Homo sapiens: one gene and its partner. The protein of the gene in region 1 purifies or fractionates together with the protein of each later gene. This does not show direct contact. Each region holds a gene or a part of one and is shown in the gene's direction. Other genes may lie near its edges.

Evidence for each region.
Region 2: the proteins of SMAP1 (region 1) and KLHL18 purify together in Homo sapiens (affinity purification with mass spectrometry; 2 studies listed by BioGRID and IntAct, with this or other methods). This does not show direct contact.

The regions. Positions count from the first base shown.
Region 1 is NC_000006.12:70,660,234-70,676,854, forward strand, and holds the start of SMAP1 (stromal membrane-associated protein 1), read left to right. Parts: upstream 1-7,649; 5' UTR 7,650-7,790; coding exon 7,791-7,908; intron 7,909-8,296; exon of another isoform or gene 8,297-8,395; coding exon of another isoform or gene 8,396-8,483; intron 8,484-16,621. UniProt on the Homo sapiens protein: GTPase activating protein that acts on ARF6. Plays a role in clathrin-dependent endocytosis. May play a role in erythropoiesis.
Region 2 is NC_000003.12:47,330,721-47,346,680, forward strand, and holds part of KLHL18 (kelch-like protein 18), read left to right. Parts: intron 1-2,436; coding exon 2,437-2,597; intron 2,598-3,962; coding exon 3,963-4,099; intron 4,100-5,799; coding exon of another isoform or gene 5,800-5,814; coding exon 5,815-6,037; intron 6,038-9,836; coding exon of another isoform or gene 9,837-9,851; coding exon 9,852-9,956; intron 9,957-11,998; coding exon 11,999-12,110; intron 12,111-12,834; coding exon 12,835-13,221; 3' UTR 13,222-15,960. UniProt on the Homo sapiens protein: Substrate-specific adapter of a BCR (BTB-CUL3-RBX1) E3 ubiquitin-protein ligase complex required for mitotic progression and cytokinesis.

The DNA.
Region 1 (16,621 bases):
AAAGTATAATAATAATAAAATAAAAAAAATTACATTTGGAAATAATTCCAAAGGAAGGTGGGGAAGAATTGTGTGGAAGTAGCAAATTTTCAACAGAGACCTCCCTCTCCCCACACTGAGGAGAGTTCCTTGGTATCTGAGCATAAATTAAAAGAGTACACCAGTTGGGCTAAGTTTTTAGGAATCACAAACACACTAAGGTTCCCTGATGTTAACTTTTTTTTTTTTTTTTTTTTGAGACGGAGTCTCACTCTGTTGCCAGGCTGAAGTGCAGTGGTGTGATCTCGGCTCACTGCAATCTCCACCTCCCGGGTTCACGCCATTCTCCTCCCTCAGCCTCCTGAGTAGCTGAGACTACAGGTATGCACCACCATGCCTGGCTAATTTCTGTATTTTTAGTCGAGACGGGGTTTCACCATGTTGGCCAGGATTGTCTCAATCTCTTGACCTCATAATCCACCCACCTCGGCCTCCCAAAGTGCTGGGATTACAGGTGTGAGTCACTGCGCCCGGCCCCCTGATGTAACTTTTAAAGGCAAAACAAACAAAAAATCTAGGGTCTTTCCTGGGTTTCCTCTTTTTGTGGGTGTGTATATGATGTTTGTTTACCTATCTCCATAATAAATGTTCCTCTTTCCTCAATACATATGTGTTCCTCTTGACTCAATACACTTGATCTCTCTTTAACTCTTGTTATTGATGGGTCTAAATTGTTCTACTCTGTTTTCCATCTCAAGGGACAGCATAGCTTATAAAAAACCAGGGCCTCAGTGCCAACAAGACATAACCTCGAAAGCCAGTTTTGCTACTTAATATCTAGGCTTTCAACCAAGATACTTGATTGATAACCAAGATATCGATAACTTTCAACCAAGTACTTAACATCTCTGGGCCACAGTTTCTGTGCTGTTCAGTGATATTTCGGTTTCTCCTTCTAGGTAAATGGTAGGATTGCACTTCTGGTTCCCTTGACATTAGGAGGGTTCATGCATTTGCTTTGGCCAATGGCTTAAAAGTGGAAGTGGATATGTATTATTCCTGGGGAGAGACCTTTAAAAGTCATCTTCCTGCCTTTTCCCTGAAAAGTGATAGAGACTTTATCAGCCTGGTACCAGAGTGACGACAACATAGGGTAGAATCCCTATGAGCCCAATGCTCATGTAGCATGACCAAGAAGAAAATTCTATTGTCTGAAGCCATTACGATTTTGAAGTTATTTGTTATCTCAACATGAAATACCTCATCCTGGCTGATGTTTCCTGATGTGAAAAATAGTATAATAAGATTGATTACATTATTCCACAGTGGGAGATTAAAAAACACTGGTTCTTATTACTATTATGCTCATCCTCCCAGTTGTCTATACCTACTGCTCTTACCAGTTGTTCCACCTACACCCGCATATTTGGCTCATTCTTGTCCATTTCACTTGACCTAAATTTTTTCCTTCATTTTCCTACTCCATCACTTTCCCTCTTTACTTATATCCTCTGTTGAATCCTGGTTCCATTGTAGTCAAACTCCCTAAACCTGTTTCTCATCTTTTTCGTCTGACCAGAAACAAAAAATTAGAGTCAAAAGTGACCTCATCTCTCTAAGAATCTGCAAAAACAGACCCTTCAACTTCACTCCCCATCCAGCAAGCATCCATAGACACCTTGACTTCCAGGAGTTCATCAGGACAAGTTACTACACCCCTCTGAGAGGTGTCACTAGGCACTTCTCTTCATTTAGCTGTCCGCATCCTTTTCCTAACCATACCACATCACCTCTGGCCTCAAAGAAACCTATAATCATTGCTTGCTCCTACTTCACTTCTCACACACACTTTGGACACTTTCCTTACTTTACACTCAATAGTTAACTCTAGCACTGCTTCCTATCCTTGTACCTTTTTTCTTTTTTCCCTTCTAACCGTCCCCATCCCTCCCTCAATATTTCATGGAACCCTCCAGACAATCACAGGCTTTGGAAGTCTCATCAGATGATTTATCTTCTCTTGTTCTTGAGCTATGAAAGAAAACAATGAACTGTGCAGACCCATGACCACATGCTGTATGTACTGTCTAAAATGGAAATAATTGACTTTTCTGGAATAGTTGGCATTGGTTGGTGTTCACCCTTTCTTCTTCAAAACTGTTCCTTCCCTGGCTTCTGGTTCTCCACTGTTTTCAATGGTTCACCTTTCTCTGTCCACTCTTCATTTAGTAGGCAATCCCCAGAATTTTGTCTTTAGGTCTCTCCTCTCCTTTGTCTATGTGCTTTCTCCGGGGGAATGTCATCCATCTTTACAGCTTCTATGACCCTTTAAATGCAAATAATTCCCAAATGACTTTTACCAGCAGTAACTCCTCTCCAGAGTTCTAGAAGTCAATATACAATATCTCATTAGACACATGAAGCTGGATGTCCTAGGCACATCTTAAACTTAACATGTCCCCAAGCAAATGCTGCTTCTCCCCGACCCCAAATCTGGACTATCTCTTTTGTTCTTTCTTGTTTTTTCAGTGTCCTCTTTTTACTGTTTTGCAGAAGAATGCCCAACATACAACATGATTGCAAATATTTGGCTATGCAAAAGAGGAGATAGTGCTCAAATACAAATGGGAGACATGACTTTTTAAAAAATAAATATTTGCCAGGCATGGTGGCTCACATCTGTAATCCCAGCACTTTGGGAAGCTGAGGCGGGTGGATCACCTGAGGTCAGGAGTTCGAGACCAACCTGGCCGACATAGTGAAACCCCATCTCTACTAAAAATACAAAAAATTAGCTGGGTATGGAGGCAGGTGCCTGTAATCCCAGCTACTAGGGAGGCTGAAGCAGGAGAATCGCTCGAACCTGGGAGGCAGAGGTTGCAGTAAACCAAGATTGTGCCGTTGCACTCCAGCCTGGGCAACAAGAGTGAAACTCCATCTCAAAAAAATAAAAACTAAAATAAATAAATACAAAATAAATAAATAAATATTTAAACACAACTTGGGTTCTACAAGTGCCTGGACTACAGGTCTGTTTGAAGGAGCTGCCTTGTTTGTTGACCCATGGTGATGTCATAATTATCGCCAGTAATCAATGCGTGGATTCAGGGTGCCAATGGTTGAATATGATCATGGTGAACCCCTTTTCTAAAGCCTTCTCTAGTCCTCTACAGAGGTACTATGGCCAGGACCAAGAAAATGAAATTTCTCAAAGGTCAGTGGTCCATAACAGTTAAGTATGCTACATGATTCTCTTGGTTTTCATTTCTAGTGAGGAAACACACTTACTCTTCTTCAATTCCACATACAGGACAGGCCTAAAAGCTCCTCCCATATCTCTGAGAACATTAGACCATGCACTCTTGAAGAAGGCTTTCCCTTTTCCTCCTTAAAAATCTTCCTCCAGCAATTGAGGGTTCCCATGTGCAGTATGTTGGCTCCTTTGGGTCTGCACAGGGCCCAATGGGTAGAAGGTCATGTTGGCCGCACCACCACAGTCTGGGCAATCATCTGGCTCACCATGATGTGGTGGTCTTGGAGTCAGGGAGCATGCCTTAGGCCTTCAGGCTGCCCAGAAAAGGATGATGCCCTGCACAGAGATGCTGAAGCCCTGGTACAGGCCCCAGATCCCATCAGACTTACTTATCTTCACCAGACAGTCTCCTAGGTCTTTGAACCTGAATCCCAGCTCTGTGTACGATTTCCCAACATTGACCACCAGATGGGTTCTGGCAAAACCCAGCAAGTACACAAAACAGAGACAGGTGGCTCTGGCCGCCTTGTTGGAGGCCAGATTGTGGGCAAAACAGCTCTAGAACTGTGTGTGTTCATCCATACTCCCAGGAATAGCTGTGTCTGCTTATCCTTGAATGTGATGTTGAGGGCTTGCTTAAGAAAGTAGTCCACAATTCCTGTGCACTGCTGTCAGCTGTCACCTGCTTCCTAGCGCCTTGCATCTGCTACAGCAGCTTCACCTGCTCAATCAGGGCCACAACTATCTTGGCGACAGCAGCAGCAATGCCACCAGCCAGATGGTCCTTGGCAAAGGAGATCGCCTGTTGTGTCATGGTTGCAGAGCAGGAAGCTGAGCACATGGAGAACTGGGAGGATTAGTGCTGCTGGCTCAGCCCTGTGACTGCTGGACCTAGAGGCCTACCTCTTCTATTCTTGATCTGGGTTAACGGCATTACCATTTACCTTTCTCCCAACTTAGAAAGCTTGATGTTATTCTCACCTTCTTTCTCTTGCCCTCCACATACAGTCAGCTGCCAAATCTTGCTGCTTCTAATTTTAAACCATCATTTGATTCTGTCTCTCCCAAACCCTACGCTACTTGCTTAAAATAGGCCTTCATCATATCTTCTTTGGACTATTATTGAGACAGGCCTGTAATCTGTTCCCTTGATAAGTTTTTCCCCACCATGTTCTCCATACTGCCACTGTATGGAGAGTTACTGAGAAGAAAGCTTATCAAGCCATTTTTCCGTGTAAAAGCTTCTATTGGTTCTATAAACCCATGAGGTTCAAACTCTGTTGCTTGGCTACAAAGCTCTTAACCCTCTGGTGGCAATCTACCTCTCCATCTTGTTTCCTTTCCTACCTTCATGTTCTCCAAACACATTCTAGGTTTCTTGGGCCTCATATCCTCACTATGTCTAGCATATAACCCTGAACTTTCAGAAGTCCATACGTGTTTTTTAAAGCAATTCCTTTCTCTCCGCTCCACCCCCATTCACTTGAAAAATTCCCCCATCTGTTAAAAGCCAAGTTTAAGCATCACCTCCTCCGTGAAACTTTCCCAGATTTTCCCAGGCTACTGGATGTTCTGTTCCTTTTGCTCCGAGAACACTTTATAATTGCTATAAACTTTACAGTGTAGTCCTTTTCTATTTACATATTTGTAGCTCATAGTAGACTGTAAGCTTCTGATTATTAGTGTACTAGATAGAAGTTGTTTGATAAATACTGGTGAATAAATGCAATGTTGTTTTCTTCCCAGGATGTTTTGGGGACCAGTCTCTTTCTTCCTACTATAGTCTTAAAATACAATCAACTCAAATTTATATTTTAATAGCCTCTAAGCTGACCATCTAGAACCACACTATTCAATAATGTATCCACTAGTCACATGTGGCTGCTGAACATTTGAAATTCATCTACTCCAGGCTGGGCGCAGTGCCTCACACCTGTAATCCCAGCACTTTGGGAGGCCAAGGTGGGAGGATAGCTTGAGGCTAGGAGTTCAAGACCATGCTGGCCCACATAGTGAGACCCCATGGACCAGCAGGGTCTCGAACTCCTAGGCTCAATTTTTTGATAATTTCTTTATTAAAAAATAAATTCAGCCACTCCAAAATGAAATGAGCTGTGTTATACAGCATTTTGAAGAGAATATGAAAACAAGAATGGAAAGAAAATATGCCATGTTTTATATTACATCTCAAAAATATTTTGGATACATTGAGTTAAATCAAATGTATTAGTAAAATGTATTTTATGTTTCTTTTTCTGTTTTTAAATGTGGCTACTGCATTATTTAAAGTTATACGTGTGGCACGCAAGTATTTGTACTGGACATTGCTGTGACCCTTCAATCCATCCTGAAGGTTGTTTTTTGGTGGTAAACCTGTATTCTGTTTTTCTGAGTCCTCACAGTGCTGAACAGAATTTTTGTAGGGAGGAGAGGTACTCAAAAAATGGTGTTTGTTTACTGGTTACTGCAGGACTAACTTTCCCAAAAGATCCTTTTTATTATGCTATTATCCTACTTGAAGAATCTACAGGTTTTCTTTTTCTTTTTTTGGGGGGGGGGTGGGTGGGGAAGGAGTTTTGCTCTTGTTGCCCAGGCTGGAGTGCAATGGCCTGATCTCCGCTCACTGCAACCTCTGCCTCCCGGGTTCAAGCGATTCTCCTGCCTCAGTCTCCTGAGTAGCTGGGATTAAACAGGCATGCGCCACTACACCCGGCTAATTTTGTATTATCAGTAGAGACAGGGTTTCTCCATGTTGGTCAGGATGGTCTCGAACTCCCCACCTCAGGTGATCCGCCTGCCTCGGCCTCCCAAAGTGCTGGGATTACAGGCGTGAGCCACTGTGCCTGGCAAAAATCTACAGGTTTTCTACTGTCAATTTGCATCAAGGCCAGACTACTTTGTCTGGCTTCCCAAGTCTTCCATAACCCTATCATAGTTTACTTATGCAGCCTTATCTCAAAAGTAGTACCTTTTGTTCCAGTCTGTTTTCCAAGGTACTTCAGGTCTTCATGCTTTTGTGCAAGCTGCTCTTTCTTAATATCTCCCTCCCCAGTCCCCATCTAAATCCAGCGTATCTTCAGGACAAGGCTCGTAAGTTCTACCTCCCACATAATGTTTTTTTCTGTTCATTGGAACTCACCAATATCTCCCTAGTAGTTATTTGTCAGAGCTATGTAGTATAAGCTCTAATTTGTTTAATTACTGAGCATCTTCATTGCCATATCCATTCAATTTAATTCCAGAAACATTTTTGAGCCCCTGTGCCAAGAACAGGGCTAGGTAGCAATGAGGGTCACTTTTATGCAGGGACAGGGGCTAGAAATTGGCCTTACTAAGAAGTGTAAGACCGACTCTTGCTCATTGCCTTTCTTAGCATCTGCTTCATCGCAGGCAAGGACTGTGTTTATTTGGCTTGCATAAGCCCCATATTAGAACTTCCTCATAATATACAACATGCCAAATCATCGAAACTGCGTCACCCGGAGTTCAAACTTCATGAGCCTGGATTAGGGTCTGGGTTCCAATGAAAAGTGTTTTCTTTAGTTCTCTTTCTCTTGCATTAAGGATCACTATTTACACAGCTTCTTGTTAAAGTATCACCGCCTAGTACTTGGGTTCCTGGTCACACTTTCCCCCTTATGGAAGGGCTTACTGCCAGGTCTTTCAGACTCTGGAGCCAGACTGCTTTGGATTTAAATCTCAACTCCTCCACTAGTAGTTCTGTAATCTGGTCAGGTTACTTAACTCCTCTATGCCTCACTTTCCTCCCCTGTGTAATGAGGATAACAATATCATAAGGTTGGGGAAAGGGTTAAATGAGCTAACAGTTCGTTTAACAGAGTAATCACTCAATGAAATGTTATCCCCTAATACATGTCACTACTAGATTATTTCTCGCCCTTAAAATGTAAGAGACCGTTTTTCCTCTTTTCTTCCATCCGTGTCTCCAGCTTCTAAACTGCAGGCGAATAAACCTCGAATGAGTAAATGAACCCACCCAGTCGCTAGTTATTTCTGCATTTCCAATGTTGTGCCAGCAAGAGCAAAGGCAAATGGGCAAGTCAAAGTAGGCTTCTTGTAAAAGGTCTTCCATTACTGGGTTTTACTAGAGGCCCTTGCGGACCATCACATCTCAAAAGGGGGGAAAGCTCGTATGAGGCAGTGCCAGCTACCTTTCGGGAATCACCTTGGGCAGAAGGCCTTTTTGCAAAAAGACTCGGCAGCCCGGGCCCCGTAGGTTCGGCGCATGCGCAGCGCGCTCGGCGCCCGGGTTCCTTCCTCCGCGCCACCCGGAAGCCTCGGCGCGACCCAGTCCCCCTCCCCCTCCCCTCGCCGGCTAGGGTGGTGCGTGCCGGCAGGCCGGTCAAGGAGGCGGGACACGTCGGCGCTACCACCGCCACCGCCGCCGCCGCCCCTCCTCCCGTTCCAGCTGCCGCTGCCGCTTCCTGGGCTGAGTCCGCCCGCGGTCCCGGCGGCGCCAGGTGCGTTCACTCTGCCCGGCTCCAGCCAGCGTCCGCCGCCGCCGTAGCTGCCCCAGGCTCCCCGCCCCGCTGCCGAGATGGCGACGCGCTCCTGTCGGGAGAAGGCTCAGAAGCTGAACGAGCAGCACCAGCTCATCCTATCCAAGCTTCTGAGGGAGGAGGACAACAAGTACTGCGCCGACTGCGAGGCCAAAGGTAGCTTGGACGTCGTCGCTGCCCACGGTCGGGGCCTCTTGCGACCGGTGACCTTCCCGCCGCTGCGGCGCTCGGGGCCCGAGCGGACGCCTCGGCTTCGCTGGCCGGCTCCTGCCCTGACTGGAGGGCGGGTGGCTGAGCGGGCGGGCGCGGGGCTCCTGTCGACCCTCAAGTCCGCCAGAGGCGGCGGCGAGGTCAGGCCCGCAGGCCCTGTCAGTGGCCCCAGCCTCCCCTCCTCCCAGACACGGGTTTGAGCAGGTGCCAGGGTAGCGATGCTCGGACCCTCCACAGGGCTGGGGGTAGGAGCGAGGCTGGGAGCGCGGAACCGGGCACGGGTCTGGGCAGAGCTTAGGGTTAGAGAGTTGCCCTCCTAGCTCTGCTCATAGCTATCTCTGTGGGTGGGGCCGCGCTTAGGTCTGGATCCCCTCCTCTACCCTCCGGTGTGACCACGTCCTCCCACTCCGGGCTCGGATTCTTGGTCTCCTAGATGGAGCCCTACCTGCCTGCCCACCTGACAGCTTTTGTACAAGGCTTTTATCTCTGCTTCCTGAAAAAGAGTATGGTGGTCTTTTTCGGTGGGTTTGAGTTTTACGGAATAAATTAATTGGAGAAAGGTCTTTATTAGTAGTAGTATTGTTTTTTAGTCTGGTTATTAGCCAGAATGAAGAGGAATTTCATTACATGAGTCTCTTGGAGGACGGTGGGTTTGTATTTCTGAAGATTTTAGTAATTAGGTTTTCTCTGACCAGCTAGTTTGGGAGAATATGTGGACACTGATTTGTGTACCTCATAAATGCTGAAGGTTCATTTTAAAGATCTAGAGATGGAAAAAACCTAATTTTAGTTTTTTCGGTTGGAGGGCTTCTGCCTCAGCCTTTGAAACAGATATACTATTTTTAGCTGCTATGTTTTGTGTTTGGAGATCTGATTTATGTTTAATGTCTTGTAAGTAATCTCAAGGGAAATATTTCTTTTTTTTTTAAAGAAATGTCTTGTGTAGTTAAGAAAAGATCGTGTATATTTTTAATTGGTTTATTTCGTTATTGGGTGAGAAATAGGGTAGTTCTCTAAAGCAGGAGACAGTCTCTTTGGGGAATGTCCTTTAAGATTTCTGTGTTATTTGACTTAGACTTTTCCTGAAGCTTTACTGTTCTATCTCAATACTATATAAATGAGTCACATTTCAGTAGGCTGATAATATTTGACTAGACTGAGCCACACAGCATCAGCAGGTTACTTCACTGTCGTAACAGGTACTGAATTACTAGAAGAATCATGCGGGAATACTGTAACTAGATTATTTTTATGAAGCACTTTTCAATATAGTAACTTGATTGAGTCAAGATTATATTTATCCTATGTAACCTTTTCAGGTGATGAGTTTTTACAAAGTCCGTGCCTGGTTCTTGTAATACTTGTTTTCCTAGTAACTTGATTGTGTGTGGTTATTTGGGAGTTCTGCACTGTGTTTAGGCTCAGTTGCTTGCTCATTGACTGCACTAGCAAAACACTGAAAAATGGTCCTTTAAAAGGCCAAGAAGAAGAAAGAAGCTGAAGCTAAATAGTACACATTTTGTCATTTTGAGTAATAACATGGTTAAGTAGAGATGCTGGTAAATATTAAATCTGTTCATTAAAAGTCGAATAGTAACAGTTTCAGAATTAACCTTCCTTCATCTACAGACTTTATTAAAAATAATTTAATTTTTGTTCAAATTTCTGTCTCCAAAAAAGTACTTTATAAAATCAGATTTTCACTAATGCTTTCTAAAATAATACAGATTTTTAAAAGCCATTATTAACCATGTTAACTTTTTTTTTTTTTATTTACTCTTTTGAGGTGGGGAGAAGAGAATCATGTACTTCTTAAATTAGGATCAAAAGTTTTACTTCTTTGGACCTGAAGAATAGGAAGTATTCGTTTTGCTCAGTGTTTGTATTGCCACGGAAATCAGTAGATATATATTGAATGAATGTCTTTTGTATTTTGGTTTTGTCTGGCCTTTTGTTGGTTTACTTGTTTTGAGAAGTGAAGGAAGTGGGAGAGAAGAGAATGGTATCAAGAGTACAAGGGTGCAGCTTGAAGGGCATGAACTCCACAGTATAATTTACAAGGATTATTTTTTTCTTGTTGCTACTAAATCTAGAAGAATATTAAAATGATCTTGTAAATAATTTCATTGTTTTATCTTGATCTTTCAGGCAAAAAATCACAGGTAAGGCCACTTATTGATTTAATTAGACTTGATTTCATGGTTGTAATAATTGAAAAATTCGACATGATAGAGCAATTGATGTAAATATATTTTCACAGTTTTTGAGTATTTGGTAAGGTTGAAGTACATTATGGAGGCTTTTTTAGTAGAATTCTTGGCTTGTTACATGATTTTGGATCTATATGCTAGGATGACATAATAAATATAGTACTTTTAAAAGATATGTTAAAGGTCTTACTCTACAGCTCAGTTACTAAGAAGTTTCATTCTGTGTATGTATTGATGTTTTCTTCACTGTCTAGTAAATTGCATCAAACTTTTCATGTACTGTATTTCAAAGTTATTTCCTAGTTAACTCAATTTTCTTTCTTTCAAAGAAGCTTCTTCCACTGATCTTTGAGAATATGTACCAAAACTAAAGCTTAGGATTTGAGGTGCCTGTATTATCTTGCCTTATCATAGTTGGTAGAGGTATGTCAATTGGGTTTTGACATTTTCTTACTGAATCACCAGCTGTGTTTCCTGGATTGACAGTATTTAGGAAGCAACGAAGGAGAAAAGGATGGCATAGGCGCCAGTTTCCTGCTCTTGATCCTGCTCTTACCAAATCTGTTGAACAACTGGAGAATTTAAGAACAGGCAGATGGAACTACTCCTCCTCTCTCCTAGCTGCATTCATGACTCAGTGGGAGTTTAAAGCAGCTCTTGTTGGTTATTAGTTGGTGGCACTTTAGGGAGCAGTGAGGACTGGGAATGCCTTGCCAGCTTCAAGTTTAGTTTTCAGTATTTAAAGTGTTATCTACAGGTAATTCTAGCTTTGATTTTTGTTTTTTTTTTTCACTTCTCTATTCTTTCACATGCTCTGAATAGGGCATCTTGTGTTGGACATCAGGAGTAGCCTGAACTTGGCTGAGTAGGGCTCCTAGAAAACATCGCTGGGCTTGGCAGGTACCACATTGACATGTCCCATGCTTGTTAATGTATATTTCTGAGATTTTAAAAGTGCATTCAAGACCAGCCTGGCCAACATAGTGAAACCCCGTCTCCACTAAAAATACAAAAACCATTAGCCAGGCATGGTGGCAGGCACCTGTAATCCCTACGTGGGAGGCGGAGGCAAGAGAATTGCTTGAACCTGGGAGGCGGAGAGGCGGAGGTTGCAGTGAGCCGAGATCGCGCCACTGTACTCCAGCCTGGGTGACAGAACAAGACTCCGTCTCAGGGAAAAACAAAAACAAAAACAAAACATATAGATAAAATTCACATTGAGCGGTTTCTTCCCACTATCCCCTCTCCCCAGCCCTTGGCAGACACTATTGCATGTTCTATCTCTGTAGGTTTGGCTGTTCTGGATATTTAATATAATACAACATATGAACTTTTGTTTCTGACTTTGACTTCATATGTTTTCAAAGTTCATTCATTTTGTAGCATGTGTCGGTACCTCACTCCTTTTATGGCTGAATAATATTCCATTGTATGGATAGACCACAATTTATCCGTCTATTGATGAACATTTGGTCTGTTTCCATCTTTTGCTAGGTTTGATTTTGAGCATGTTTAAATTGGTATGAAAGTGAGTCTCTTGCCCATTCAATTTTGGGTAGTCAGAAACATAAGGTTTTTTAACTCTAGAGATTGTTTTGTTTAGCCTGTCTGATATTGAGAGGGTAAGCTCATTGCTGAGATCAAACACTCGTTTCTTTGTTCCGCAGATCTTGACTTGAAGACACACTGTTAGATATTGTATTAGGTAAGAGAGCTAAAAAAATTTGTAAGACCTAAAGGAGTTTGTTTAGTGTGGGTTGTGTTTTTGCAAATAAATGATTCTAAAACGATGTGCTAAGTGCTTGTAATAATGGTTTTAAGAAATAACTACCTCTATACTTATTTTGGGCTGTTGTTCCCCTTGCACCTTGACTTTTGCCCATTGGTGGTCTTTACAGTTCCTAGAATGCTGTTTCAAGACCTTTGCACGTGCTGTTCTTCTGCCTGGGAAGCTTTCTAACAAGTTTTTGCCTGCTCAGCTTTTGCTCATCTTTCAATTCCTGCTTAAATGTCTTTTCAAGGGAAATAATTCTCCTTGATCCTCTGAGATTAGGTTAGGCTTCCGTTTATACATAAAAGACAACACCCTGAATCTTTTATTGCACTTATCACAATTGTAATTAAACATTATTTAGGTAATTATGGGGTACACTGTATCCCTGCTGGATTATAGCTGTAAGAGAGGAGACCTTGTTTATCTTGGTTAGGGTAGTATCCCCAGTTTTCAGGACATGTGGTAGGCAAATGTAACTTAGCAAATATTTTTTGAATGAATGAATGTGTGAATGAATGAGCACAGAGCCCCTGGCAGGCAGCAGGGTGTGTGAAAGGGAGTGCACCTGTGAAAGGGAGTGGCATGTGGAGTGACCCTGTTGGGACCAGTCACAGAAGGAGTCTTCATTTGAGCTAGGTTCTGAAGGTGGAGTGGGATTTCATCAGATAGAGAAGGAATTAAAGGACACAGCTGCACACACACATGTACCAGTATGAAAGAACAGAAGAAGTTTCCATACGGCCCTTACTAGATAAGCTTTCTTTAAGCATGATCAGTTTTGGTAGTCTCAGGTCAGAGGAAGAACTGGGATAGTGAGGATTGCAGGCAAATCCTGAGTTAGGAGATGTTGAACAGTGGTCCAAGAAGAGGGCAAGAGGACCTAAATTCACACAATGTCAATATATAAGTCAGGGTATAGAGCAGGAAAGAGATCCACTGTAGCTATTTTCAGGAATCAGGTACTTACCAAGTCATTGGAAGGGCTGGAGGAGGGAAAGTCAGGGAGCCACTGCTGAACTGCTTTCAAGGCCACACATACCACCACTGCTACCGCTGCCCCACTGTCATAACTGCTTCTCACCCAGGAGACTGGTATGCTGATGGGGGCATAAGGCCTATGGAGCTGCAACCACTTAGTGTCTGTAGACGTTTTTTGTTAGTTGCCCTTTCTGTAGGAATGTGGCCTCTGTCCCACTTGTGCTTTCCATGTGCAGATAATTGGCAGATCCTAATTATGTCCAATACCTTGCCTTCAAGGGAGTCTTTTAGCTTTCTAACTTTTTCAAAAAGTAGAAACGTGTAGAGCCCATTTGATTGCAAGAGCCAATCCAAGAGTTCATGTTTTTCATTAAGTCTTTGATATTTTAGAGTTGTTACTTTTAAAGTGTAGTAATATTTACTAAAAAGTAAAGTTCACCTTGGGGAACTGGTGTTTATTATGATGTTGATGCTTATAGGACAAATTTATATAAGTGAAAGTCTGATTATAATTCACCTAAAGAAATTTGCCAATCTAAAAGTTTCCTCAAAATGTGAAACTTCAGTCTGATGGGTCTGTTGTTCTTGTAATTCTGCTGATCTCGAGGTTTTTCCTGATTGGGCAGAGCCCTGGTATCAGAGCTGAGATGGAAATCATTGGTCTCTGACTCATCAGTTTAAAACTTGGGCTGCATGTTGTCTCCCCTCCTTTTGTTCTTCACAGTTCTTCTTTGTCTTTTTTGTTTGTTTGTTTGTTTGTTTAAGATAAAACTTTCAGTACTTGACTTCATTAATTAAGGAGGCTTACATCTCCTAAATTGTTGCTGTACAAGATATATATATATATCTTTCTCCACCTTTATTAACCTATAACAGACTTGAATCCATGCTCTCTTTAAGGCAAAGTAGAATGTTTAAAACGATATACTTTATAAACTCAAAAAAGTGCTTTGGCATTTTTTTTTTCTTTTTTTTTCTTTTTGGTACAGGGTCTCACTCTGTCGCTGGGCTGGAGTGCGATGTAGGCTCTCTGCAACCTCTCCCTCCTTGGTTCAAGCAATCCTCCCACCTCAGCCTCTCAAGTAGCTGGGGCTACAGATGTGTGCGACCATGCCTACCTAATTTTTGTATTTTTTGTAGAGACCACGTTTCGTCATGTTGCCCAGGCTAGTCTTGAACTCCTGGGTTCGAGTGATCTGCCTCCCTCAGTCTCCCAAAGTGCTGTGATTACAGGTGTGAGCCACCACACCCAGCCCCTTTTGCTTATTTCAAACGCTTCTACTAATCGTCTTTTCACGGATTAGAATTAAGCCATTTTAGTTCAGTTTCTCAATTTTCTCAATGAAAGAAGATCAAAGAAACTTGGAGGCCATTTTGTAGTTATTATCAGAAGAGTTGACCGCCTTACATTCTTACCACTGTAAAGAGTTGATTTAACAGACATTTAATTTTGTTGATAAATCAATATTTTCTGGGCACTAAAAAGATTAAGTACTACGTTAGATACTACTGTGTGTGTTAAAAAAGTTTTGGATGCCGGGTGCAGTGGTTCATGCCTGTAATTTCAGCACTTTGGGAGGCTGAGGCAGGTGGATCATCTGAGGCCAGGAGTTTGAGGCCACCCCTGGCCAACATGGCAAAACCCTGTCTCCACTAAAAATACTAAAATTAGCCAGGTGCAGTGGCACATGCCTGTAGTCCCAGCTACTCGGGAGACTGAGGCAGGAGAATTGCTTGAACCCTGGAGGCGGAGGTTGCAGTGAGCCGAGATGGCGCCACTGCACTCCATCCAGCCTGGGCGACAGAGTGGGACTCCATCTCAAAAAAACAAAAACAAAAAGTTTTGGATATAGTTGTCTACAAGCTAGTTAGAGATCTCAGTAGACATGAAACAATTACCAGTTAACTTCTAATCTATGTTTACATTGGTAGATTCATTAGAAGTTTAGAGATAGGGTAGCTCCATTGTGACCTGGAGAATGTTAAAAAAAAAAAAAAAGCAAATAATAACATTACATATATACTCACAAATTATATAGTGTTTTTTTTTTTTTTTTTTTTTTTTTTACCAGAGATGATGTACTTCACACTTTACATATACTAACTCATATAATCTTCAAAACAACCTTTGAGGTAGGTAATATTATTACCCAGGTACACAGAACTTAAAGTAGTGGAGCCAGAAATTTTTTCATTAAAAAAATTTTAGGAGGCCTGGAGCAGTGGTGTACACCTGTAATCCCAGCATGTTGGGAGGCCGAGGTGGGTGGATCACCTGAGGTCAGGCGTTTGAGACCAGCCTGCCCAACATAGTGAAACCCCATCTCTATTAAAAATACAAAAATTAGTTGGGTGTGGTGGTGCACTCCTGTAATCCCAGCTACTGGGGAGGCTGAGACAGGAGAATCACTTGAAACCGGAATGCGGAGCTTACAGTGAGCCAAGATCGTGCCATTGCACTATAGCCTGGGCAACAGAGCGAGACTCCATCTCAAAAAAAAAAAAAAAAGAAAAAAACAACTTGGAGGGGAGTGACTGGCACTTTCTTAGGACCTGGGGATTAGCAGGGGATAGGTAGATAAGGTTCATGCTCAAAAGGATCTGTTAGTCATTGGTGTGGAGAAAAGAGTTAACAAAGCAGGCCTTGCGGTGGTTGGCTGACATCTGAGGGGAATCTTGGGGATGGTCCCACCACCCTAAGTGATGAGTCTGTCATTGTGCCTAAGTTGTTTGTATAATAAATATGGTTTATGTTGAATATCTGCTTTTCTTCTGGGATTCTGGAATTGGCATATGTGCCAGCCAGGGTTACCTACATGACCAGTCTCCCTAATAACCTTTGGCACTGAGTCTCTGATGAGCATCCCTGGTTGGCATCATTTTACATGTGTGGTCACAGCTCACTGCTGGGAGAATTAAGTGTGTTCATTGCAACTCAACTGGAAGGGAGCACCCGGACGCTTGCTCCTAATTTCCCCTGGACTTTTTGTGCCTTTCTCCTTTGCTGATTGTGCTTAGTATCTTTTTGCTATAATAAATCATAACGATGAGTACAACTGTATATTGAATCTTTTGAATCTTCTTAGCAAATTACTGAACATGAGGGTGGTCTTGGGGAACTCAAAGCATAATTGGTAATATATATTTTCTTCCAGTATATTATACAGGACATGTTGGAGCCTCAGTATATCTGTGCTGGCTCTATAACCTAGCCTGCTAATAAGGGTACAGTCTGGAGGAGCAAGGATGAACATTAGAGGCTTTTATAACCTGGGGAAATTGTGATTTTATTGAGATGAGATAGGGGTGGGAATCTGAACTGTAGAGTCAGGATTTGAGCCCGGGAGATATAGTCTGTGCTGTTAACTATGTTTGATGGTATGATAGATAAAACACCTGTTTTTGTTGTAGAAATTTGTGATGTAAGAGATTGTTGTTGGGAAGACTGTCACCTTCGGCTAACTTAAGGTTTTTCTCAGATTATTGCCAAATGTGTTCAAATGTGGACAATATCTTCATTTTAGTTTCCCTCCTTGCATTTAATAGCAGAACCACCATAACTTCAAAATACCAGTTTAAACAAATTGGAATTTTTGTCTCATCACTAAAGTTTATTTTATTTATTTATTTTTTCCTTGTTATAGAGACAGGGTCTCATGCTGTTGCCCAGGCTGGGGTGCAGTGGCGTGATCATAGC
Region 2 (15,960 bases), on another chromosome or scaffold:
GCATAGATAATTTTTTTGTTGTTTTTTTGAGTCAGAGTCTCATTCTGTCACCCAAGCTGGAGTGCAGTGGTGCGATCTTGGCTCACTGCAACCTCCATCTCCCAGGTTCAAGCAATTCTCCCGCATCAACCTCCTTGAGTAGCTGGGATTACAGGCATGCACCACCATGCCAGGCTAATTTTTATACTTTCAGTAGAGACGGGGTTTCACCATGTTGGCGAGGCTGGTCTCGAATTCCTGACCTCAAGTGACCCGCCCATCTTGGCCTCCCAAAGTGCTGGGTTTACAGGCGTGAGCCACTGTGCCCGGCCTAGTATAGATAACTTTTTGAAAGAATCTTGTTCTAAGGAAGAACAGAACATTGGGGCAGCTGTGGGAGGGGTCTGTGAAATCAAGAGGGGTTGTTGTTTGTTTGTTTTTGAGAAAGAATCTTGCTCCAACGCCCAGGCAGGCTGGAGTGCAGTGGCAACAATCTCAGCTCACTGCACCTCTGCCTCCCGGGTTCAAGCAATTCTCCTGCTTCAGCCTCCCAAGTAGCTGGGATTACAGGTGCCCGCTACCATGCCTGGCTAATTTTTATATTTTTAGTAGAGATGGGGTTTCACCACGTTGGCCAGGCTGGTCTTGAACTCTGGCCTCACATGATCCTCTCACCTTGGCCTCCCAAAGTGCTGGGATTATAAGCATGAGCCATCATGCCAGGCCTTTTTTTTTTTTTTTTTTTTTTTGTGAGACAGAGTCTCACTCTGTCACCCAGGCTGGAGTGCGATGGCACAATCTCAGCTCACTGCAGCCTCAGCCTCCCAGGTTCAAGCATTTCTCCTGCCTCAGCTTCCCAAGTAGCTGGGATTACAGGTGTGCGCCATCATGCCTGGCTAACTTTTGTATTTTTAGTAGAGACGGGGTTTCACTATGTTGGCCAGGCTGTTCTCGAACTCCTGACCTCAGATGATCTGCCCACCTCGGCCTCCCAAAGTGCTGGGATTACAGGCGTGAGCCACTGCGCCAGGCCCGACCTTTTTTTTTTTTTTTTAAAGTGAGAGAAATTACAGCATATTTGACTGCTGTTGGGAGTTTTCCAGAAGAGAGGGAAGAATTGATAATATTGGAGAAATGGGAGAGCAGTTGTTGGAATGATGTTCTGGAATAAGTGAGGACAGTCTAGGGCATAAGGGTGTGCATCTTTGATAGGAGCACAAGCCATCCATATCCACAGTAGCAGGAGGGAGAGCTGGGGCACACGCCCAGGGACGGGGGACAGGTAGATTCTTACTGAAATTCTCTTCTGATTTTCTATTTTCTCACCTGAGAGTGAGGATGAGGGACGAAGGTTAGAAACTTAAGGAAGGCCGGGAGCAGTGGCTCACGCCTGTAATCCCAGCACTTTGGGAGGCCAAGGTGGGCAGATTTGTTGAGCTCAGGAGTTTGAGACCAGCCTGGGCAACATGGCAAAACCCCATCTCTACTAAAAGCACAGAAGTTAGCCAGGCCTGGTCCAGCTTAAACTCCTGGCCTGTAATCCCAGCTACTTGGGCTGAGGTGGGAGGATTGCTTGAGCTGGGAGGCAGAGGTTGAGGTGAGCTGAGATTGCGCCACTGCACTCCAGCCTGGGCGATGGGGCAAGACCCTATCTCCAAAAAAAAAGAAAGAAAGAAAGAAAAGAAAAAAGAAATTTGAGGAGGGATTAAAAGGTATGATTTATTTTCCTCTTTCCTCTAGAAAAGGGGGATGCTAGAGAGGTGAAGCGGGCTTGATAGGAGCCTGGGAGAAAAGTGGATCCTGGGCTTGGCAGCATAGACACTGTGGTTTCGAGGAAAAAGCCTCATTCCAAAAACTAGGTGTCCTGTCCCTAGCTCTTAAACTAATTAATATGACGGGGGGCGGGGGGGCAGCTCACATTTCTTTGAGTGATACATTTCATAAGGGCTGTAGGGCTTTAGAGGGAGAGGTCCTTGTGGTTGGAGCCATTAAGAAAGGCTCCTTGGAGAACATGGATCTAGAGCCAGGCCTTAAAAATAGGGGAGTGGGTTTAGATGAAGAGGAGGAGATGAGGGCATTTTAGATGAGGGGGGACAGTGTAAACAGGAGAACCAGCCCAGCCTTGCCGGAGTACAGAGAGGGTGATGGAGGGAGTTTAGAGGGAGCAGGGGTACAGGAGCAGCGGGAAGGGAAACAGGCATTTTGTTTTCACAGAAAGTAATAAGATGCCATTGATGATTTTTCACTAGGAAATCATAATCATAATGAAATTCAGGAAGCTGTTCTAGTAGCCTAGGAAGTAGAGAGAAATCAGGGATTTCAGAGACAAGTAGGAGAAAAGATTGATGGGCCCAAGGGACTGCTTCAGTATAGGAAGTGGAGGCATTGAGATTGGAGGCCTGGGGTGTGGCCTCTGGGTGGGAGGATTTGCTGCCAGAACATCCACTCTCATGACAGGTCTTTGAAGCTGCATTGGCCTGGGTCAGATACGACCGGGAGCAGAGGGGTCCCTACCTGCCTGAGCTGCTGTCCAATATCCGCCTGCCCCTCTGTCGGCCCCAGTTCCTTTCAGACAGAGTACAGCAGGATGACCTGGTGCGTTGCTGCCACAAATGCAGGTGAGTGAGGGTGGACCTGCACAGGACACTGCCAAAGGTCTAAGCAGGGAAGAGGAGTTGGCCACCTGTTCCAGTTCTGGAAAGAAAGCATTTAGAGTGATCAGTCTAATTCATGGCACACAGATTGGTCTGCCCTCTGTCTAGAAGCTGGAACAGGAAGTGTGAAGAGCCCGAATCTTATGCCTTGGGCAGAGAGATGTGCCATGTGGGAGCATCAAAGCAGAAAGGGCTTTCCCCTGCTGAGTTATCTGAGGATTTTCCAGCATCTTTCCCCACTGAGCTATTTATGAATGTGCAACCATCTTTACTGCCTGCTCTGACCCTGTCCACACCAGCAGCTCACTCAGTGGCGCAAATGGGACTTCCTGGGGCTCATTGCCCTCTTCAGTAAATATTAGTCAGTGCTGTGGGCATGGAGGGCCTCTGCCAGGTGTAGGCTTTACATCTACGATGATGGGCAAGGGGCAGACATGTTTACCAACACATGAAACTTTTACCCAGAGCAAATCAATGACAACATGGTACAGCAGAGTTACCCAAACAGTTCAGAAGATGGCAGCCCTATAGGATGATTGCTGTAAAAGTAGAACAGCAGAGAAAAATGTTCATTCTCCTCCAGATTGCTTATCAAATTCACAACCCTGAAATATTTTTTTCTCCTTTGCTGATAAAAACTTTACACACATTCAGCTTTCTTTCATTTTCCAACTCCTGGTTGGGATCAGCTGGTTCAGGAGGAAGTAAGTGCCTGTCCATGGCAGATGGTGTGAAGGTGTGTGTCAGGATGGGGTGGAGTAGTGTCTGGAGGTAGCTAGGGCCCAGTGACCAGCGGTCTCAAGGGTGCTGTTGAGGAGTTTGGACTTTATTCTGTCGGCAGTGGGTGGCTATTGAAGGTTCTTAGCTTGAACTCTAGTGTGGAAGTGGAATGGAGGGGCAGGCCTGAGGCAGGGAAATGTGTCAGGAGCTGCCACCGTGGAGATGAGTGGTGATTAATTGCAGGTTGCAAGCCACGGTGCAGTCGTAGGGATGGAAAGGAAGGGCTAGGTCTGAGTGGCAACAGGGTGCATGCTGCTTGTCGAAACTCCCAGGTCCAGCCATTTTGGCCACTACCTTGTTTTTCTCATGCCTAATCTACACTAGCTGAGGTGGTCTTTGCTTGTCTTGCCCCTTTAATTTTGAGTATATCTCAGTAGCCATGTATGATTTTCCCAGAACTCACCTGGTTTCTTTGAGACCAGACCTTCCAGAAGGCTTCTCCTCCCAGGTTTCCCCTGCAGTTGGCAGTGGAGAGCCAGGCTCAGAGATGCAAACGAGGACTAAGTCAGGGGGATACCTCCTGTTCTAGCATCTTCCACCTTATTCTAGGGACCTGGTAGACGAAGCAAAGGACTACCACCTCATGCCAGAGCGCCGGCCCCACCTGCCAGCTTTCAGAACCCGGCCACGCTGCTGCACATCCATCGCTGGACTTATCTACGCTGTAGGGGGCCTCAACTCAGCAGGTACCTTGCGGCTCCCCTTTATAGACCCTCCTCTTGGACTCCATGGATGAGGAAGCACCAGACAAATTAGCCTGGCCCTTCTGGTTTCTCTGTTTTGTACTGTCACCACCCTTGCCCCTCTTGATTTTATACAATTGCTCTACAGTTAGAGCATGTCACATATTCATGCCATTGAATCAGAATATCAGTGCTAAAGAGACCTTCTAGAAATCTTTGAGGCCTAGCCTTCTTACCTGACAAGTGAGGAAATTGAGCCCCACAGAACTTTCACTATGTTCATACAATTGTTTTTGGCAGAGCAAGGACTAGAACTTGGGTGTTCTGATTCCTGAGCCAGCACTTTTGCCCTAATATCACATTGGCTATGGTATAGCATCCTTCAGCCCCGGATAGGATACAGTCAGAGACCCAGTTCCATACCAGGCTATTCACATTTTGTCATATGGATCTCTGGGGTTAGACTGAGAAAGTCCCCAAGAGAAAGATTATCCAAATACACAGGGTCTACCACTGTCAATAATACTTTTTACTCTTCAGCCCCACCCCCTGTGAAACACACACATGCTTTACAGTCCGTGGGTTATTGGCAGTTTTTGAATCTAAGAGTAAGGTTTTCAGAAAGCTGCATGGCCTCCCAACTTGGGGGCAGTTGGTGGGCACTCCCAGGCAGTTTTGTTTTTATTTTTTATTGTTTTTAATTTTTTTGAGATGGAGTGTCACTCTTGTCACTCAGGCTGGAGTGCAGTGGCGCAATCTCAGCTCACTGCAACCTCTGCCTCCCGGGTTCAAGCAATTCTCCCGCCTTAGCCTCCTGAGTAGCTGAGACTACAAGCTCATGCTACCACGCCCAGCTAATTTTTCTATTTTTAGTAGAGATGGGGTTTCACCATGTTGGCCAGGCTGGTTTTGAGTTCCTGACCTCAAGTGATCTGCCCACCTTGGCCTCCCAAAGTGCTGGGATTACAGGTGTGAGCCACCGCACCTGGCCCAGTTTTGTTTTTAATTGAAGGTTAATGAGAGTTGGGTACTAGCTGCTGCTTGTTAATCAGAGGGCCTGGAACAGGTAAATCCTCAACTCAGTGCACGCTGGAGCGGCGTGCAAATGAAATGCTAAGTGCCCCATAGCAGCATACCACAGGAAGAGGGGGTTATTTTGTTTGATCATCACAAAAACCTGATGAAAAAGGTAGGGCTGGAATGATCATTCCTTGCTACTATGACTATTTATTGAGCGCAAAGTTTATTCTAGAACCATGCTAGGTGCTTTACCTGTTATATCATTTAATCCATAAAGATTATCTCCATTTCACATGTGAAGCAGAGGGTGGGGACACAAAGCCCCTTGCCTTGGGTCACCCCCTAGCAAATGAAAGCACTGGAGCGCATGCCCGTCCCTCTGGCATGCCTCCTGCCTGGAGGAAATATTGTATCGATTCACCTATACCTTTGGCTTTAAGCAGGTGGAGTACCTGATTGTAACTGAAAACTACCCTCTCTAAAAAATAAATACCTCCTGTCTGATTCTGATTTTCCTTAAAGAATTAGGTTTGAGGTGATCATGGCTGAAATTTCTTAGTGGGCCCTTGTGCCTTGAGTAATTCTGTGGGAAGAGCTAATAGAATTGAGTCGAATGTTCCATATAATCAATGCCCAATAGCTGTGCTCTAAACAAGTGGTCTCATTTGTTTTAATTTGAGTAGCAAATTTTTATGCAGGTGATTCCCTGAATGTGGTGGAAGTGTTCGACCCCATTGCCAATTGCTGGGAGAGATGCCGTCCCATGACAACAGCCCGCAGCCGCGTTGGCGTGGCTGTGGTGAACGGGCTTCTCTATGCCATCGGAGGATATGACGGCCAGCTACGGCTGAGCACTGTGGAGGCCTACAACCCGGAGACAGACACATGGACCAGAGTGGGGAGCATGAATAGCAAGAGAAGGTATTCTGGAAGCCACGTGCAGCCCGAACATACACACTGAGCACCTGGGGAGCGCCATGCTAGACGAGCAGGGGCACACAGTAGAGTAAAATACAAGCTTTGGCCTGGGAGTTTCCTGCAGCCAGGCCAGCCACTGCCAGTACCTCCTGGGAGCGAGCCCCCATCTGCTTAAAAGTAAAATATCCACCTTGTCCTTTGGGGAACTTGGGGAGACCAGGCATGGACATGTGGAAGTTGTGTTGTTATTTTAAGTGCCAGATAAGGACTGGAAATGTGTATTATGGAAGATTCGAAGAGGGAGAGAAACTGGACTGGAACTTCTGGAAGATTTCAGGGAAGAGGTGGGATTAAAGTTGAAACTTGAAGAATAAGGAGGATTTACCTTTATTAGTGATAAAAGGAAATCCAAGGTGTTTTTCTGTGTACCTTCCTTCCCCAGGACTCCCCTCACACATGCACTTCCACTACCTGGGGAGAATACGAACCAAAGCAATGTTCTTTTATTTAGGTCACACACATTCTCCCAGACAGGAGCACATAGGTATTTGCAAGGTGGGCCAAGTTGATATGTCACTCAGTACATTCTAGCTACCTGCTCTCTCCACTTCTCTGCTTATATTGTCTGAATAAGAAGTGGGATTAGAAGACATCCCAGTGCCTTTGTTTAGCCCTTCTTACTGCTGAGGTGACAGGTGGCATGTTTCATTATGTCAGACACGTGATGGAGTCATCACATGTGTGGGCAGCTGAAAAGCTGGCGCAGCCCAAGGAGGGGAGAGGAAAGCTGCCCAGAGCCCCCTGGCCGTTACCCAGGACAGCTCTGCACTGATTGCTTTTACACATTGAGCTTCCTTGATATATGCCTAATGTTGTTCCACATCCAGCAGCGTTTGCATGTGGATGTGAGCTGGGAGGGATCTGCCTTTGTACTGGTGAGACCAGTTCACAAAGCATCGGAGTAGGTTCCTTTGGGAAGAAAAAAATACGTAAGATCTGCCCCTCCCAAGAACGCATTGAGAGTCCTTTCCTCCCACCATCCCCACTTTTGCTCCTTGGATACTTTGCAGCTTCCTATGTTTGAGTGACTCATTGCTCCGTGTCCCCAACCATGAGTAGCTTTTTTGCTTTGACTGCAGTCAGCTGTCCTTCCTTGTGTGTCTGCTCTGGACCACTTCCTTGCTTTGATGTTACTGGGTTTAGAGGGCTGTCTTGGAGGAAAGTTCTCTGGGTATTCCTTTCCTTCACTGTGGTTAATATCCTGTTATTAGTGTGGGCCCGGTTCCATTACATCCCTTTTAAATTACAGGCTACCTTAAAACGTTCCTAGTCACTTCTCTTCTGACATCCCACACAGCTGTCTGTTCTGCCAGTTAGTGACATCCTGCCATCTTTCCTTCCTATCTCCCCCAGTGTTCTACGCCATCCCATAGACCTTTCTTACACTGGACTATTCCAGTCCATGCTGATCAGCATTTTCTCCTTCTCTTCACACTCGCCTTTACCACCTAGTTGATAGTTAATCTCATGCAGTTTTGGGGCACCTCTTAATTCATTTTCATATTGTTCAACACCTGTTTTGTTATGTAATTTTTATGTTTGTTTTGTGTCCGTATCCAGAAGGATAGTGATCATGTCTAGTAAATTTGTGATCTTCCCACAATACTTGCCTAAGGCAAGTCCCTCTCCTCTTTCTGGCTGGTTCAGGGGGTCAGTTATCATGTCCCTGAAAGGGACATTCTGTGGATCAGTTTGATTACTATGTACATTTAAAAGGTAGCAGCAAGCCAGGTATGGTGGCTCACGCCTATAATCCCAGCACTTTGCGAGGCCAAGGAGGGCGGATCACCTAAGGTCACGAGTTTGAGACCAGCCTGGCCAACATGGTGAAACCCTGTCTTTACTAAAAATACAAAAATTAGCCAGGCATGGTGGCGGGCGCCTGTTATCCCAGCTACTTGGGAGGCTAAGGCAGGGAGAATTGCTTAAACCGGGGAGGCGGGGGTTGCAATGAGCTAAGATCGTGCCACTGCATTCCAGCCTGGTTGACAGAGTGAGACTCCGTCTCAAAAAAAAGAAAAGGTAGCATTAAGCCTGGTATGTTTTATTTTCCTGTTTGTTAGAAACCTAGATTCATTTTTAATCTTCACCAGCATCACATTTGAAAATAGTGAATTGGGCAGCTTGGCATTTGTGCTGAATTCCTTATAAGGCGTTGTGTAGGAGGGAAGATTACATGATTACACCACCAGACCCCTGGGTCTTTGATATTAGGAGAGCTTGGCATGTAAGGAGTTGGGGAGTTGGGCTTGTCTCATTTAAATCTGAGGCAGGCCTCTCTCTGGGCAGTCTTGAGGAGAGACCTCAGCCTCCCCAAGCTATGGCTGCCTGTCTGTACAGTGATTATGGTGCTCTTTCCTTCCTTGCAGGGTGTGCTAAGGGCTGAAAATAGCAAGTGGGCCATGCACAGTGGCTCACACCTGTAATGCCAGCACTTTGGGAGGCTAAGGCGGGAGGATTGCTGGAGCCCAGGAGTTTAAGACCAGCCTGGGCAACATAGTGAGACCCCCGTCTATACAAAAAAAAAATTAGCCAGGCATAGTGCCATGTGCCTGTAGTCCCAGCTACTGGGGAGTCTGAGGTGGGAGAATCCCTTGAACCCAGGAGGTCAAGACTGCTGTGAACCATCATTGTGCTACTGCACTCCAGCCTGATGATAGAGCAAGACCTCATCTCAAAAAAAAAAAAAAAAAGAAAATAACAAATGTAGAGTACCTAACACATGTAGTAAATGCACAGCAAACAGGAGCTGTGGCATCAGCCACTATGATAAATTAGAGGCCATGCACATGATGAAAACAACATCTGTGAATTGAGTGGGAAAAAGCAGAGGTAACACAACAAACATACATTCAGTGCCTGTTACATACAGGACATCATACTTATCACTGTGAGGGTCACACAGGTGAAGGCCCTTTCCTGTCTTCCAGGAGCTCCTCACTTATTAAGAGGTGGCAGATAGATTGGCTGGGTGTGGTGGCTCACTCTTAACAATCCCAGCACTTTGGGAGGCTGAGACAAGAGGACAGAAGTTTGAGACCAGCCTGGGCAACATAGCAAGACCCTGTCTCAAAAAAAAAAAAATTAGCTGGGTGTGGTGGTGCACACCTGTAATCCCAGCTACTTGGGAGGCTGAAGTGCAGGAAGATCAATTGAGCACAGGAGTTCAAGGCACAGTGAGCTATGATGGTACCACTGCACTCTAGCCTGAGTGACAGAGCAAGGCTCTGATTAAAAATTACACACAGAAGTGGCAGATAGATTCCTGGTAGCCTATAATGTCAGAACATAAGTGCTTTGTGGGCTGGAACTTTGGCTTGCTTACCACTCTAAACCCCAGCTGTTACAGATCTGATGGATGAATGAATGATTGTAACAACTGCTGATTAATAAGCCACTCAGGGAGCGTGGGGGTGGGAAAGAGTAATTCTTACAAAGGGGAGGAAGAGGAGAGTGGAAGTTGAGTTGGGCCTTCAAGGTAAATTCGACCTTCACATGGTGAGGTGGAAGGTAAGCATTTTAGAAAGATTAAGGACAGAGAAGAGCAGGGAGGGGAGGCAGCCTGCGGTAGAAGGGTGGGGCACAAGAGGAATGATGGGGCAGCTTCTGTCACCTCAGTTTTATGCCTTTACTTAGTCACATACCTTAGATTTACGTTGCAGAAAGAGGCAATTGATAGGTTTGTTTCTCAGTGGGCAAGAGAGGCTGCTCCAGGAAGGCTGCGGCTCATCTGGGATGACAGCTCTGTCTGTTTCAGTGCCATGGGGACAGTCGTGCTGGATGGGCAGATCTACGTCTGTGGGGGCTACGATGGCAACTCTTCCCTCAGCTCCGTGGAGACCTACTCACCTGAGACGGACAAGTAAGGACTCCAGCTCCCTTGGGGCAACTGGAGCTTATAAACAGAGAGTATAAAAATCAGAACTGTAGTTTTTTTAATTTAAGCTTCTCAAGGGTAGAGAATGTCTTACCTTTTTGCCCGTATAGTACTTTGTATATACTAGATATTTAATAACCCTTGGTTAAGTGAAAGAATGAGTAAATAAAATTTTAAAACAAATAGTCTACATAGTTGCTTGGAAATACTTATTTAATGGTCTGTACCTCTTAGCTAAATCAGCCCATTTTAATGGAAATACAGGCAAGAGGGAATAAGAAGTAGATGAACAGCATGTTCCAAAGTGGGTAGGATATGATTTGGAAAAAAAAAAATGTTTTTAAGTTCTGTGGTCAGATAGGCTTGGGAAATGTTGATGTCTGAACTGCCAGAGTCCTTGTCTTTCCATAAGATATATTAACATTTTAAAGACTCTAAGAAACCCTGCAGTAAATAACTCTGTTTAACCTCGGGTTTTATATACACAACAGTCACCATCTTGTGGGACTCATTTGTGGAACACTCTTTGAAAAACATTGACAAGGTTAGCCCGAGTTTTTCATTTCAGTATTTGAATCCTCTCATCTTATATAATAAAATATAAACAAATTAGTTGAATGGACTTATTAGGATGCCTTTAAGCCAGTATTCTGTTCACTTGACCAATCTACTGTGGATCAGACAGCAAGCTGGGTGTCTGAGATCCTTTAAAGCATCCAATGTGGTTGGGCCATGGGTTGCATCATGATCATCCTACCCTGGAGGCCTGTGTCAGAAGCTCTTGGGCACAGAGCAGAGAGAACCTTCATCTTCCCCAGGGTTGCAGGAAGGGACAGGGTAGCAGGGATGTCTTCCAAGGTGAGACCTGTCATGGATAGCCAATGGGAGGTGTTTGCTCATCATAGGGAGACAACAAGGAGTGAGGCTGCAATAAGAAAGTGTTCACTGTAATCGAGAACAGCAATGATCCTCTCATGGGCTAGAGCACAGCGTGTGGATGGGAGACGGAGCAGGGTGGGTGGCATGTGGTGTGGGGTGAAGCTGAAGGGTGGTTGAGGACCAAGAGGTGAAGAACCACATGAAGGGCTGGGCACAGTGGCTCACGCCTGTAATCCTAACACTTTGGGAGGCCAAGGCAGGAAGGTAACTTGAGCCTAGGAGTTTGAGACCAGCCTAGGCAACATAAGAGAGACCCTGTCTCTTTTAAAAAAAAAAAAAAAAAAAAAGGAGAGAGAGAAAAAAACATTAGCCAGGCATGGTGGCATAAGCCTCTAGTCCCAGCTACTGAGAAGGCTGAGGCAGGAAGATTGCTTGATTCTGGGAGGTCAGAACTGCATTGAGCTATGATAGCACCACTGCATTCCAGCCTGGGTGACAGAGTGAGACCCTGTCTCAAAAATAAAAAAAAATTAAAAACCACATGAAGGAACCTGGATTCTCTTAGAGGAGACAGTGAGGAGCCACTGGACGGACATGGTGCAGGTACAGGAGGAGCAATCCCTCTGGCTGGGTGGGGTCGGATGGGACTGGTAGGAAAGCCAGGCTGCCTGTAAAGAGGCTGTTGCAGTGGTCCAGATGAGAGGTCAGGGGTAGGGCACTGGTAGTGGGGATGGGAGCAAGCACTGACTAGGAAGCAAACCAGCCAGGACTTGGGGGACCACAGGAATGTTGATGGTGAGGGAGAAGCAGCCAGAATAGCACTGAGCTTTATAAGTACAGCAGCTAGAGGGCTGGTGGTCTGCTTAACAAGGCAGGGAGTGCAGGGAGGAGCAGAACTGTAGGAGAAAGAGGTCTTGTATGAGACAATGATTTTGAGCAGCCATGGAGATGAGCAGAGAAGATGGGCTGTGGGTTTGCAGCTTGGGTGAGAGGCGGCAGCCAGGGAGAACTGTCAGAGAGGTGGTGGGAGAGGTGATAAGAGATGGAGAGATGGCCAGCACAGTTCACCTAAACCCTGCTAGGCTGTCTTGAGGGAACAAGAACCCTGAATCTCATGCTTCCCCTCCTATTTTGACTCTTTCCTGAAGATGGACAGTGGTGACCTCGATGAGCTCGAATCGCAGTGCTGCTGGGGTTACAGTCTTTGAGGGCAGGATATATGTGTCAGGCGGCCATGATGGTTTGCAGATCTTCAGCAGTGTGAGTCTGGGCTCCCCCTGGGATAAGGGTACCTACTTCTGTCTTTGAGATTTATTTTAGAAGATCATTATTTGAAAAAACTTCAGCCTTGCCACAGCTGAATAAAGTATCATCTAGTGAGGTTTCAGGCTATCCACTGCACCTTCTGAAATTCTGAACTTCCAGAGAATGAGCCAGTGTACACAAAAGAAGGGCAAAGGGTAGTCACATCTGCAGCCACCACCCTGTTCTACTGTCTGTTGAACACTACATAGAACTTGTGAGATTCCTGCCCAAAGTAAGTTCAGTTATAGACCAAGTGTAAATTTGCAAACAGTTGTATTCTTTTGGATAATTTGTTTGAAATTGTATTTATTCTGTAAAAAAGGCTCAACAGCCATTTACTAGTCATTCCATAGTCAGTCAGTGCTGCAGTGGAGAGCCCTGGAGATTACAGGAGACCCAGCTCTCATACAGGTTCTGTCACTACCTAGCATTGCATCCTTGGGCACATCCTTTTTGTTTCCTTAGATGCAAACAGAAAGGGTTAGGTGAGGTGACCTCTCCCTGTCCCCATACACCAAAGAGCAGGCCTGCAGCAGAGGGAATACTGGGAGAGCTCCTTGTCCCCATACCTCCCACAGGAGTTTGACATCATGGGGGGCTGCTGTGCCCTGCACGGTCACTCCATGGACTGAGCTTTGCCTCTGACTGTCCTGTACCTGTGCCTCTCTCCCCACTGCAGGTGGAACACTACAACCACCACACAGCCACCTGGCACCCTGCAGCTGGCATGCTCAACAAGCGCTGCCGGCACGGAGCCGCCTCCCTGGGGAGCAAGATGTTTGTCTGCGGGGGCTACGATGGCTCTGGCTTCCTCAGCATTGCCGAGATGTACAGCTCTGTGGCAGACCAGTGGTGCCTGATTGTCCCCATGCACACGCGCAGGAGCCGGGTCTCCCTGGTGGCCAGCTGTGGGCGCCTCTACGCTGTTGGGGGCTACGACGGACAGTCAAACCTAAGCTCAGTGGAGATGTATGACCCAGAGACAGACTGCTGGACATTCATGGCCCCCATGGCGTGCCATGAGGGAGGGGTCGGTGTGGGCTGCATCCCTCTCCTCACCATCTAAGGCAGAGGATGGGATGTGGTGGGGCAGGGATCTGGTACAGACATAGGCGCTTCCTTCCAGGAACAGTCCCTCAGGAGAGGCAGTGGACCAGAAGAGATGGCGAAACGTGAGCTCGCCGGAGGTACAGTTTTTCCAGGTGCTTAAGCCCTCCCCCACTGTGCCACCCTTGTGACCTTCAGGCTTGGGTCATCAAGATGCACAGCATGGAACACAAGCTCCTCTGGATCCTGCAGCTGGTGACATGGAACTGTTTTCTGGTCCACATGAACACAGGCTCCATCCAGGCCCAGCTCCTACCCACCGCCTCTCTGTGGGCCAGCTGTTCACAGAAGGCCTTCCATCTGATGCTCCCCATCGCCTGCTTGCTCTCCAGCCGAGTCTGGCCAATTTGCCATGGGGAGGCTGCAGTGTCCAAGCCTGCTGGAAACTGGGATGTAGCTGGGGACGAAAGGACAGACCCAAGCGTTCTCCCTGCCTGAGATGGTGTGGCCACAGCAGTGGAAGGCTGCACACAGGCACATTCCTTCTTCCACAGTGGGGCACCAAGGATTCTGTCCTCATTGCTGGGTAAGCAGGGAGAAGAGAAGTTTTCCCCATGTCTAATTTTGGGATTTCAGTGAGGCCTTTTGATCTGTCCAGGAGAACAGAAGGGAAAAAAAGATACTTGAAAGAAACTGAAGGAAATTTAAACAAAGAAACACTTGAAAGAAACTGGAAAGAAAAATAATTTTTTTATGTGAACAAATTTTGCAAGAAGAAAAAAGCATAAAAGACACTAACGGCAAATCTATGTTTAAATGGAAAATCGTCTAACTGGAGAAGGGCGGTATCCACCCCACATTCGGATCCCAGGGTCCTGAGGCCTCGCATTGAGCTGGGGGTTCCCTCTGAGCCCCAGTGTGTGTGGAATCAGTGCACTCTTGACTGGGCCTGTAGTAAGGTGCTCATGGGGTTTGTCTTCTCACCCACCATCAGAGGACTTTTAAAATCATAGGCGTAGAGAGTTAGGCTATCTGCTGAATTACTGCCACTCTTCTTGGTGGGGGCTCCTAGCTGTGGCTGGGGGCTCCAGGCGCCCCTGTGATTACCTCCTACTGCCACCATGGCGCTCATTCAGATTCCCCACTCTCACTAACATTGCTTCCTTTTTTGACCAGCAGGAAACAGCAGGTCTGGCCAGATTCTCACTTGCCCATCAATCTCGTTCTTGGATGATTTCCCTCATTGTGATGCTTCTGGGGCACGTTGACCATATGCACCTCTAGAACCTAACCAGGGCTTCCTTCTACCAGCTGTGGGCGGGCTTGGTCTGGTAACCTTGTCTGCTCTGCCATTCCACTGCTCCTCCATCCACTCGCCAATCCCAAGAGTCTGGCCTCCCTCCAGCCCTGGGCAGACTGACCAGCAAGGTGGACCTTTACATTCAAGCACAGCTGGCTTTTATGACATAAAGAACTAAAGGCCGAAAGAATCTCTTGCTGCTGCAAAGAACAGATTTTATATTTCTTCCTCTAATCTTGGCAAATGACCTTTACCTTTTGGAAAGATTTCATATTGCTTCCTCCTCCCTGGATAGGACCTAATGTAGCACAGCGGGACTCAAAGAGGAGGACATTTTCTCTTGCCAGTGCACTGGGCAGTGGGGCTGTCCTTCAACTGCTGCTGCCAAAATTGGTTTTCTAAAATTCTTCCAGTAGAGACTAAAAGAAGATTCAATTCCTGTAACCCAAGACTGAGTCTTAGGGCTCCAGTCTCCACCTGCTTGGTTTCCTATCCTTTGCTGCCTGCCTGGGGTGGCCTGGAAGCCTGTTCAGAAAGGCACAATGTGGAGCCTGGGGTGTCTCCCCCACCCCAGGACCGTCAGGTTTACCAGTGTGTGCAATCGCCATGTATTCAGAGGGAAGTACCTTTGTTACCTACAACTTAGGAGCTAGGCCTCTGCTACAAGCACTTGAAAATGATATTTTTATTTTTAACGTCTCAACAATCTGATATCGGATGTCGTTTAACCTGGGCTCGTGGTAGGGCTCCAGCATTTCTCCCTCCTTCCTGGTTTGCCTGTAGGGGTAGACTCGGAAGGTGGGTGGGGTGTGCATTTCCTGTTAGGAGTGTATCAGTGCTTGTCTTATTATAAGCCCCTTTCTTTTGTGAATTTGAAGTAGCACCAACAAGCCTGGATTGTGAAGGTATTAAGAATCGGTCTGTGGGCTACTGAGTGGGTCCTTAGGATACTGGCCCAGATTTTGCCACTGGGTATGGCAGATCATTTTCTACCATGGCCTGCTGCTCTTGTAGTGGACTTCCTGAGTCCAATCCCACCTCCTGGTGTAGAATTTACACTGCTGCACCTGAGGTCGATGTTTCAAAGTAAGATCAAGCCAGTGTTTTGATCTGGGCTCTGAGCACAAGTCAGGAAACACCAACATATTCACACTCTCCCAGTAGGTTCCTCAGTCCGATGGTGAATGGCTATTCGTAAATGGCTGGTCTGGCTCTTTGGTGTTGGAGCCTTTCCAATAGCCCCATGAAAAGAAGCATCACCCAAGGATATTGTAAAAAGGATGTAACAAGGAGATAGGGTAGACATTGTACTCAGTGGGCCTTGGGGCCTAGCCCAGCTCTGAGCAGAGGACTGTGGCATTCACTGTCCTTGAGTGTTTCACCTTCTTGGATAACACACGGGCCTTCTCTTCTGGATTTCATCAGAGATTACAGCCAGATGGGGGCTGAAGACCATCC